Regions from separate parts of the Homo sapiens genome. Here region 1 is linked to region 2. Evidence: fine-mapped expression QTL. A gene starts in region 2. The other region holds a variant in brackets. All regions are shown on one strand. Distances are between the middles of the regions. Region 1 has its middle 72 kb from the start of PTBP2. Region 2 holds the start of PTBP2 (polypyrimidine tract binding protein 2).

Region 1 (5,386 bases), 72 kb before region 2:
TTCTCTACAGTGTTTCAATACAATAATACACATTTTAATTACAAATATGTATATTTGTAAATAAAAGTAAAATATAAGAACATTAGAGCATATAGTTAAACAAAAATTTTCTTTTTTAATTTTTTTTATTATACTGTAAGTTCTAGGGTACATGTGCACAACGTGCAGGTTTGTTACATATGTATACATGTGCCATGTTGGTGTGCTGCACCCATTAACTAGTCATTTACATTAGGTATCTCTCCTAATGCTATCCCTCCCCGCTTCCCCCACCCCACAACAGGCCCCGGTGTGTGATGTTCCCTTTCCTGTGTCCAAGTGTTCTCATTGAAACGAAAATTTTCAAATGTTTCCCTTTAGTTCTTACATGTTTAAAAATTCAGACAAGATAGAATAGTAATAACTAGTAATAACATACTCCAATGTTCATTCTCTCCTTTGTCCTAGGTCATATCTTTATGCATAAACATACACATACAATTTGCCACATACTTGTAATGCAGCCTTGAAATAGTTGCAAAAAAATGTAATTTCCACTTAAGGTTTATGTCTCCAATATCTTAGCACTATATTAATAGCTTTTACTCTCAATCACACTTCAAACTCTACATTTAATATTTGTACATATACAATGACTCCACAATGGTGAATATGTTTTTAAGCTTACAATATGCTTACATCATAATTAACACATTTAATAAAAATCCCATAAATAGTATCTAATGTTTTATTACAGTAGGATAGTCACATTTAAAGTCACATTTTAAATTCATGAATTAATTTGACATATTTTTTGAGCACCTGCTATGCACCAGATATTATGATTGCCTCTTTTCTTCTCTGTAGCCCATTCTGTAAAGACTGGAGACTAAGTATGGGGTCTGTCTTATTCTCCACTCAATTGCTATCATCTAACTTAGTGTCTGGCACATAGTGAGTGTTGAATAAACATTTGTTGAATGCATGAATTGGCCTTCATCTTAAAAACCTGTTTCTGTTTTCTGGACTACTTCTTAGTCATTGTGAATCTAAATCCTTCTTTCCAAAAAAGTAATTCTTTTCCTTATAGCAGAATTTCAGACTTGAATGATGATTCCATTTATTTCCCAGCCTGCTACACATATGCCAAACTGCTTGAGGCAGTACTTGAGTAAATTCTTAAGGCATCTCTCTTGCTCTTCCAATTCACCTGTACCTGAATCGAGACGACTAGACATCAAGTTCTTGGCTATCTTCTCAGAGACATTCTGTTATGGAGACCTAGACTTTTAAATAGAAGCAATACTTAATCACTAAAAAGGCTGCACAATCCAAATTATCCTCCCCACAGTGGGCAAAACTTCCTTGAACAATCTTTTCAGGCTCCTTTCTTTTAAAAGGGTAAATTCCCATAATTTAAAAGTAAATAGGTTTATCAGATTGCTTTCTTCTCTGAGAGCAAATACCCAGGGCATGTTGTGATGACGAAGAATTTCCACATAGTTCTCAGAGATTTTTGATCCATCTTGCCCATCCACATTTAACAGTAAGCCACAATATTTTATATAAACTGTTTTGTAAGGTTAGTGGTCATATAAAATGAGTCTGGTGAATGTTTTCTTTCTGAGAAAATAATTCTGTATGTGAAAACACATTTAATGGATTTTGAAAGTTACAATTGTGACATACTGAGAATGTACAAGTTTCTGCTGTATGTTATACATAATTTATTAATGGCTTTGTGAATCATTTCAGAAAGTATTACAGAGTAAAAAGTTAAAAATATATCACAAATGTCTAACTTCATAGTTAGAACCAACTGTCAACCCACCGTAACCTAGGGGCCTAATTTTATGACAAATTATTAAGTTAATAGAGTATGAATTATCTCTCATCAAAAACCATTCCAGATCACCAAACTTCTAAATGGTTCCTAGAGCTACCTGCTCCCTCATATAATTCATGGGAACCCATATTTTTAAATGCTTATAAATGTTTTCAGAAGCTGTGAATTCTAATCTTGTTCTGTCACTAACTTACTTTGTAATCCTATGTTGCTTTTTTCCCCCAAGTTTTCTTCCCACTAAAAACCAGATATTAGTATAATACTTTTCTACAAGGATATTGTGAGATTTGACTAATTAATATATGTAGAACATTCTGGAAAACTCGGAGAAGAGTTATTTGGTACATATAAAATATTATACTAAAGTTTTGAAACTGATTTAATTATACAACAATGCACATTTCCAAAATGGGTATTTTGGCACTATATTCTCTGTACCAATATTGCAATCTGAAATAATTACAGCTGCTTTACTTTCCAAAAAAGGGCAAATTTTTCTTAGGCTACACAATGCAACCTCTTTTTTTAGCTATGACTGAAATGATAGCTTTAGTGGTTTTCTATTGGGAACCAAAAGTCATATATAACAAATTCA[G/A]TAAGAGTGAGGAGAATGACTGCCACAGTTGGTCTGGGCTATGGGTGTTTATGATGATATACAGACACCATTAATGGTGCATTACTGTTCTAGGTGTGGTCTCACCATGGTTCTACATAGAGAGCCAAATTTGAATTTAAAGCAAAACTTGATGTAATAATGTCTATGCAGAAAAAGGCAACAATCTTAAGGGGTGGGAAAAACTCTGAATGTCATAATGACAACCCTAAATTTTCTTTTGTTTGTTCCACCAAACTGAAAGCAATAACAAGTCATCATCAACCTATTATGTGTTAAGTCCCATAACTTGTCAGCTACTAAAATAATTGTCCAACCACTTAAATATTTCCACTATGTGCCAGCAAGCAATGACAGTGTCAAATTTCCCTGAAATGTAGAATTTATGATCCTAGAATCCACTTCGTTTTTGCACTGAATCCCTCTGGCATATATATTCAAAACTCTATTTCTAATAACAGAATTATTTGAACTCATACTGCCTGTCACCTGTTATTCTCAAAGTACTTTGCTAATAATAAATAATTTGTGAAATTTGTCTCTGCGCTGGGTATTACCACTTCTGTTTCAGCAGCATGTCCCTGACGTTGATCCTGTTTGTTATTGCCAAGGTATGTGATTAGAGGAATTGGTAGTGGAACTGGAGACCAAGGCCAGATTGCAAGGTGGGTGGCTGGTGGTTCTGCTGCTTCTTTGTGCTGCACTTGTGGAAAACAACAACAACAACAACAACACTTCCAGCCATGGTTCCACACAAGAATCCATTTCAAAGTCTGACTCCCTAGCAAGACAGCAGGTGCCATGAAGCCCAGTACAGCAGCAGCAGGCCTAGGACAAAAAAAAACGCCCCAATCTACACCTGTTCATAGCTCCTTTAACCTGCACTTGATTCACTGCTCTTGCTGTAATGCTTTTTTAGTTCCCTTCATTCAAAAAGCCAACAGAAGTCCAGCATGACCATTTGCTTTGTCTGAGATGGTCAAGTAGAAATTGTAACAATGTTACAGCATTGGCATTAGGGGTAGTATGTCTTGCTTGTCTGCTTGTGTGTGTGTGTGTGTGTGTGTGTGTGTGTGTTTTAACCTATTTGTTGTAATAACACTATGGAAAAATAAAGTTTAAAAAGATAACAAATATATAAGAGGAAGCATAGGATGATCAAGTGATCCCCACAAAACAACTTAATGAAGATTTTTTATTTTGGGTGTTATTAAAACACAAGCTCTTGGTTGATGTTTCCCTTTTTCTTTGGTTAAACCTCTGATGCTATGCACCTAAGAATCATTAGTTTACTATTACTATCTATTCGTAAGTATTTGTAGATAATGCCTGGGCAACATTATCACTATTAGATTTGTTTTAACTAATTTTTAAGTCACTTGGCCATTTTTTTTAAACTTTCATTAGCAATTTGTGCAAATAAACAAATATGAGTCTTGTATGGAGACAGTTTTCCAGATTTTGTGATGTCAGTTGTTATAAGCAAATTCAGAGGCTCCAAAATATTAGTCCTGAAATGGAGTCTTTCTTTTTTTACTCAAAATGTGAAAGATGCTGGAGTAATTGTATTAGGTTGATGTAAAAGTAATCACGATTTTTGCCATTACTTTCACTGGCAGAAACCGCAATTACTTTTGCACCGATGTAATAGATTGTTCAAATTGTCAAGTATAACTTCTGAGCTCACATTTTTATATTCTTCATTCCCCATTTCCACATAGTGAACGTTAAAAGTGGAAAGATCGGATTCCGTTGCAAGATGGCCAAATAGGAAGAGCTCTGGTCTGCAGCTCCCAGCATGATCGACTCAGAAGACAGGTGATTTCTGCATTTCCAACTGAGGTACCTGGTTCATCTCACTGGGACTGGTTGGACAGTGGGTGCAGCCCATAGAGGGTGAGCTGAAGAAGGGCGGGGCATCGCCTCACCCGGGAAGCGCAAGGGGTCGGGGGATTTCCCTTTCCTAGGCAAGGGAAGCCGTGAGAGATGGCACCTGGAAAAATGGACACTCCTGCCCAAATACCGTGCTTTTCCAACTGTCTTAGCAAATGGCACACAAGGAGATTATATCCTGCACATGGCTCAGCAGATCCCAAGCCCACAGAGCCTTGCTTACTGCTAGCACAGCAGTCTGAGATCAACCTGCGAGGCAGCAGCCTGGCAGGGGGAGGGGCATTTGCCATTACTGAGGCTTGAGTAGGTAAACAAAGCAGCCCCAGGGAAGCTCGAACTGGGTGGAGCCCACTGCAGCTCATCAAGACCTGCTGGCTCTGTAGCCTCCAACTCTGCAGGCAGGGCATAGCTGAACAAAAGGCAGCAGAAATATCTGCAAACTTAAACATCCCTGACAGTTCTGAAGACAGCGGTGGTTCTCCCAGCATGGTGTTTGAGCTTGGAGAACGGATAGACTGCCTCCTCAACTGGGTCCCTGACCCCCATGTAGCCTAACTGGGAGACACCTCCCAGTAGGGGCTGACTGACACCTCATACAGGCAGGTGCCCCTCTGGGACAAAGCTTCCAGAGGAAGGATCAGGCAGCAATATTTGCTGTTCTGCAATATTTTCTGTCCTGCAATATTTTCTGTTCTGCAGACTCTGCTGGTGATACGCAGGCAAACAGGGTCTGGAGTGGACCTCCAGCAAACTCCAACAGACCTGCAGCTGAGGGACCTGACTCTTAGAAGGAAAACTAACAAACAGAAAGGAATAGCAACAACATCAACAAAAAGGACACTCACACCAAAACCTCAACTGTAGGTCACCAACATCAAAGACCAAAGATAGATAAAACCAAAAAGATGTGGAGAAACCAGAGCAGAAAAGCTAAAAATTCTAAAAACCAGAGATCCTCTTCTCCAAAGAATCACAGATCCTTGCCAGCAATGGAACAAAGCTGGATGGAGAATGACTTTGATGAGTTGACGGAAGTAGGCTTCAGAAGGTTGGTA
Region 2 (5,315 bases):
ACAGTCATCTAGGATGAAGGCCCTATTTTTTTCTTTTTTTCTTTTCTTATGAGATGGAGCCTCTCTCTGTCGCCAGGCTGGAGTGCAGTGGCGCGATCTTGGCTAACTGCAACCTCCGACTCCCTGGTTCAAGCGATTCTCCTGCCTCAGCCTCCTGAGTAGCTGGGACTATAGGCACGTTTCACCACGCCCGGCTAATTTTTGTATATTCAGTAGAGGTGGGGTTTCAACATGTTGGCCAGGATGGTCTCAATCTCCTGACCTCGTGATCTGCCCGCCTCGGTCTCCCAAAGCGCTGGGATTACAGACCTAAGTCACCGTGCCAGGTCCAAAGGCCCTATTTTTAATCCTATATTCAGCAAAGGAAAGTTTCCTGGAGAGGTTAATGAACATGCCTAATGTCACACAGGTATTAAACGAAAGAGCTCAAATCTGAATCCAGGCTTTAATCAATATGCTTTTGTGTACACTGTTGCATTAGCCTCATTCCTGACTCATGCTATGCTTTGTCCTCTTGTTTTATTCTTATTTCACTTCATGTCTTAATCTAGTACTTTATGTGCCTTGACTTGTAAATTACCTTGCATTTTTCCAAGAAACTGTTAGCTTAAATAAGCAAGCAGATTAACTATTGTATGTTTGTGGTCTTGTACCGTATTCGAAAAAAAAATAAAGAAAAATGTGTTTTTGTGAACACTGTAATTTCTTCTGCTGCCTAAGGACAAGCTTCCCTCCTCATAGAATGGTTTGTCTTTGCCAAGATAAAGTGAGAACCAATCAATCAATATCGATCGAGCGAATGTGGGGAATACCAAGAATTAATACCATAGTTCCCGCCCTTTGGTAGCTTGCACATTCAATTGTTGAGTGAAAACACATGTATGAAACCACAAATATGTGAAAAGTGATTATTAGTGGCACTAATAACAGATCCTTTATTTTAAGGTTTAAGGTGAAGTGGTTATTGTAGGAAATTTGATATGTGGTTTTTTTTTTTTTTTTTTTTTTTGAGACAGAGTTTCGCTCTTGTTGCCCAGGCTGGAGTGCAATGGCGCGATCTTGACTCACCGCAACCTCGGCCTCCCAGGTTTAAGCGATTCTCCTGCCTCAGCCTCCCGAGTAGCTGGGATTACAGACATGCACCACCACCCCGGCTAATTTTGTATTTTTAGAAGAGACGGGGTTTCTCCATGTTGGTCAGGCTGGTCTTGAACTCCCGACCTCAGGTGATCTGCTTGCCTCGGCCTCCCAAAATGCTGGGATTACAGGCGTGAGCCACCGTGCCCGGCCTTTTTTTTTTTTTTTTTTAACGATTGACAATCCCATAGGCAAATCAAGAATTTGTAAAAATTTGGGTGCTTTGAAGAGTTCTATAGCAAAGTGTTTGGACAAGATGCTCTTTAAGGGTCTATCCAATTTAAAAGTAATATTATTTATGGCCGGGCACGGTGGCTCACGCCTGTAATCCCAACACTTTGGGAGGCTGAGGAGGGCAGATCACCTGAGGTCAGGAGTTCGAGACCAACCTGACCAACATGGAGAAACCCTGTCTCTACTAAAAATACAAAGTTAGCTGGGCGTGGTGGCGCGTGCCTGTAATCCCAGCTACTCGGGAGGCTGAGGCAGGAGAATCGCTTGAACCAGGGAGGCCGAGGTTGCAGTGAGCCGAGATTGCGCCATTGCACTTCAGCCTGGGCAACAAGAGCGAGACTGGGTCTCAAAAAAAAAAATTCTAAAAATTATACACAATATCATTTAGTATATGAAATTCCAATTAGCAAAGGATAAGAGCTTTGCCTGAAGGAGACACAGAAAAACCCAGAGTGAGTATTGAGAGTAACTGGAGGGACACAGGGAGTATTTGTCATTTTTCAGAATTAGAAGTGCATTTGTCCTTGTGTGTGTTGGGGGTGGAGGTGAAGGGTGCAGGAGAAGGATGGGTACTGGCAAAGTCGCTACTCACTGAGCAAATTTTCAAGCGGGTGCCTTTCCCAATTTTGTTGAGCCTCTGATAAAAACACGTTGAAGTAAAATGTCCACTATAGTATCAAGTAAAAATTGAGACCGTAAGATATAGCAAAGGGAGTCAATTTGCATAGCCCATTTTAATGCTTCTACTTTCTCTAACCAATCTGAAGACTCAGTTGTTCCCACTCCCATCTCCACTTTCCCTTTCATGCCTCCAAATGTTAAACTCCAACTATTGTAGCATTTTAACACATGGCTCCATTTGTGTCTATTTCCACCTAGCGTATTGTGAATATTTTCTACAGGCGCACACTAATCACCAACTGAAGTGAGAATCACATTTTCCTCCACTTGGCTTGGTACTACAGGTCTTGAAGCAAAAGCCTGTATTTCAGTCTGAGGAGTTCTACTTGCTTGAGAAAGTACTGTTGTTACCAAGTGGTCTCGTTCAGTGGGGTAAAGATTTTTGTTTTAGAGGCTGGAGCCGGTCTGCAAATAAAAGATGGCTTAGGAGAAAAGCTATCCAATGTTTTTTCCTTGGCCCGCATAGGTTGACGGTAGCCAAGCTGGTACTTGGCTTGGAGTGAAAAGTGGAGGCTGCCTGGGGGCGTCCTGCAGTCAGGGCAGAGAGAGTGTGGAGAGCTGTTGGGAGGTGTCCCACCCACGCCCCCACAAGGAGGGGAAACCAGGTCGCCGCGGTCTGCAGCAGAACGCCAGGTTCCAGAGGACGGCAGGCGGAGGGCGGAGGGAGAAAGGCGCGCGAAGGCGCGGAGGAGGCGTCGGCTGCGGCGCCCACTCCCCCTAGTCCCAGCGCCCTGCCGCTCGCCTCCCGCTGCCGGGCGCCGGCGCGCTCGGCTCTTTCCGCCGCCGCCGCTGCCGCGCGGTGGCCCGTGCGCCTCGGCACCTTCGGCAATTTCCGTCGGGCCCCAGCCGCCATTTTCTCGCCGCTTGTGTGGCTCGCTGGCTGCGTGGCTCGGTTCTTGTGAGCGAAGCTTTGTCCGGTTCGGCAATGGACGGGTATGTAATCGGGCCGGCGAGAAGGTGTGTGTGAGAGAGGAGTTGGACCGTCCTTCGGCCCGGTCCCGGGCCGGGGAGAAACCCTCCCGCGGCCCCTCCCAGGGCTGGGCTGCCGTTACCCAACCCCCGCCCCATCGCACACACCCCTCCCTTTGCTTCCCCCGGCGGGCTTTGGTCGAGAAAATGAGAAGAAAGCGGGCTTGGAGGCTGGGGAGGCATAGGGGCGATGGCGGGGGTGAGGATCCCGGAGTGGGAGCGGGCACCGGCTTGGCGGCGGGGGATGGGGTGGGAACCCCATAACGTCTCCCCGGTCTGTCCCTGCCCCCTCTAGGAGCCATTTCGATCCGTACCTTGGGACCCGACCCTTGGGTTAGCGGTGCCTGTGAGAGCGAGTGGGATGGGCAGAGACAGGCCTTTGGATTGGGGGAGCCTCTAGGGGAAGAGGAGAGAGGCACCCCATGTGGACCCCAGCCATGAGCAACCTCTCCGGCCTCGCCCGGCCCTCCGTGGTCGGGAGAGATGCCGGTGGCGGGAGCTCCGGGGAAAGCCTAGTGGGAGCCGCTGGGGAAGGGGGGAGGGCGTGCGGCGGCGGGAGGAAGGGGGAGGGCAGATGTCATACTCCTTTGTTTTCATTTGAGTCTGGTAGTGGGGGCGGGAGGGAGGAAAAAATGCCTTTTTGTGGGGACTGAAAACATTCAAGGCTTGGCAAAAGGGCCCAGAAATTAAATCATCTAAAAAACGAAGTGTTTGAAGCCGACATCAGTCACATGGGCAAAGGCCAACAGCAATGGCAGAAACAAGAGCAGATAGTCAACAAAGGGCTATCTCTTTAGCTACTTTGGTCAGTTTCTGGAAAAACGACTATAAAAACCCAGAACCATGCTGCATCTTTGCGAACCTGAGTCAAGACGGAATGCTGAGTGAGGTGAGAGGCAAGACTGTGAAATGGTAGGGACCGATGTCTCGCTCATATGCTTCACACCTGAAAAGACTCAGTAATTTAACTCAATGTTAGAAAGGGGGCACGCTTAAGGTCAAAAATACAGCAGTATGCAGCTCTTTTGGGAGTGTAAACATAGTATCATTTAACAAGTACATTTATTAAAATCAGTGAGTATTTGAAGAATCAACAATTTGGTTAAGCGCCTAGAGTTTGGTGTGTTTTAAAAGGTACTAAAAACAAGATTTTATAAAAGTTAACACAGTCTCACAGAATTCAAATCATCCTAGATGTTACCTAAAGATTATTTTCCAGATGAAACAAATCCAGAGAAGTTCAGTATTCCCCCCAGATCAACACGGAAATTGATGTCAAAACTTGCACTAGAATTCATGTTTCCTGATTCCTGGTTCCTGTGGAGACTACTAAAGAGTTTAAGCGTTAAATTATTAATCTCAGTATACTGGCATTGTAGAAATGGCATAGTGTTTTGGGTTTTGTTCTTTTTGGCTATTGAATGTGTTGTTAAAAAATACCACAAGTTGTCTCACATTTGAAAGTTACTTTTAGAAAACCAGGTTGGTAACAGTACAGGTAAGTCACGGATCATCTGTGGTATTTTTTATCCCCATCTGTGTGTGAGTGGCTGGAAGATTTATGAATGATGGACTATCCTAAAAAGTTTTAGAGCCAAAGAGTGAGTGATTAGAAGAATAACAGGAGGTTGAAACTACTTATTTTTTCTTTGCAGAATCGTCACTGAGGTTGCAGTTGGCGTGAAGGTAGGAAAATACTATGTTTGAAACTGGGATTGTTGGATCTATTATCATAATTACTGGAAAATTTTAGCTTTTGCTTTTGAAAACTATAACGTAGCTAACAAAACCCAAGTGTAAAATGTTTCCTTTCATTTGTAAAGTTGGACCATATAAACAGTTTGTAATCACCATAAGTTTTTCTAGAACTGTCAGTCTGTAAGAATAACCTTTTAAAGTAAGTATGAATGATCAAGAAATTGAAAATGCTTTCACACATGGCTTCTTGTAATATAAAACGATACCCCAATTTTCTGAGGGGAAATAATGATTTTAAATGGATGGTAAGTGGTTTGACCTATATCTTATAATTTTGTTAATCTAAGTTTTTTGTTTTTTATTACTTTTTGTCATGAAAATGAATATATTTTGGTTAATAATAAAGCACATTAGAAATGAATTACACTGATCCTTAAAAAGGAAGTTGTTGAGGCAGTTAGCTTCAAATTTGAATTAGAAGTTAAGAGCTGGTTTGTCTATTAAAGAAAGTCTTTATGGTAGAGATCCTTTGGAATCCTTCCTTTTTGGCTAAGAAAACTACTCATCGTTTAAACTTTAGTTCTAATGCTTAACAT

What was found. PIP is the estimated chance that this variant, and not a neighbour inherited with it, causes the effect. A credible set is the group of variants that fine-mapping cannot tell apart.
Region 1: its variant is the best candidate, but not a certain one, in a credible set for the expression of PTBP2 in whole blood (INTERVAL, PIP 0.83).

Annotation. Positions count from the first base shown.
Region 1 is chr1:96,647,073-96,652,458 of GRCh38, forward strand. No RefSeq gene overlaps it. Among named protein-coding and RNA genes, the nearest start is that of PTBP2, 72 kb to the right of the region's middle. The variant G/A (reference allele first, on the strand shown) is at 2,421.
Region 2 is chr1:96,718,888-96,724,202 of GRCh38, forward strand. It overlaps PTBP2 (polypyrimidine tract binding protein 2), which reads left to right and starts at 2,897. Exons shown (of 14, transcript NM_021190.4): 1 at 2,897-2,985; 2 at 4,677-4,707. The coding sequence starts at 2,978. RefSeq lists silencers at 2,663-2,862, 3,093-3,372.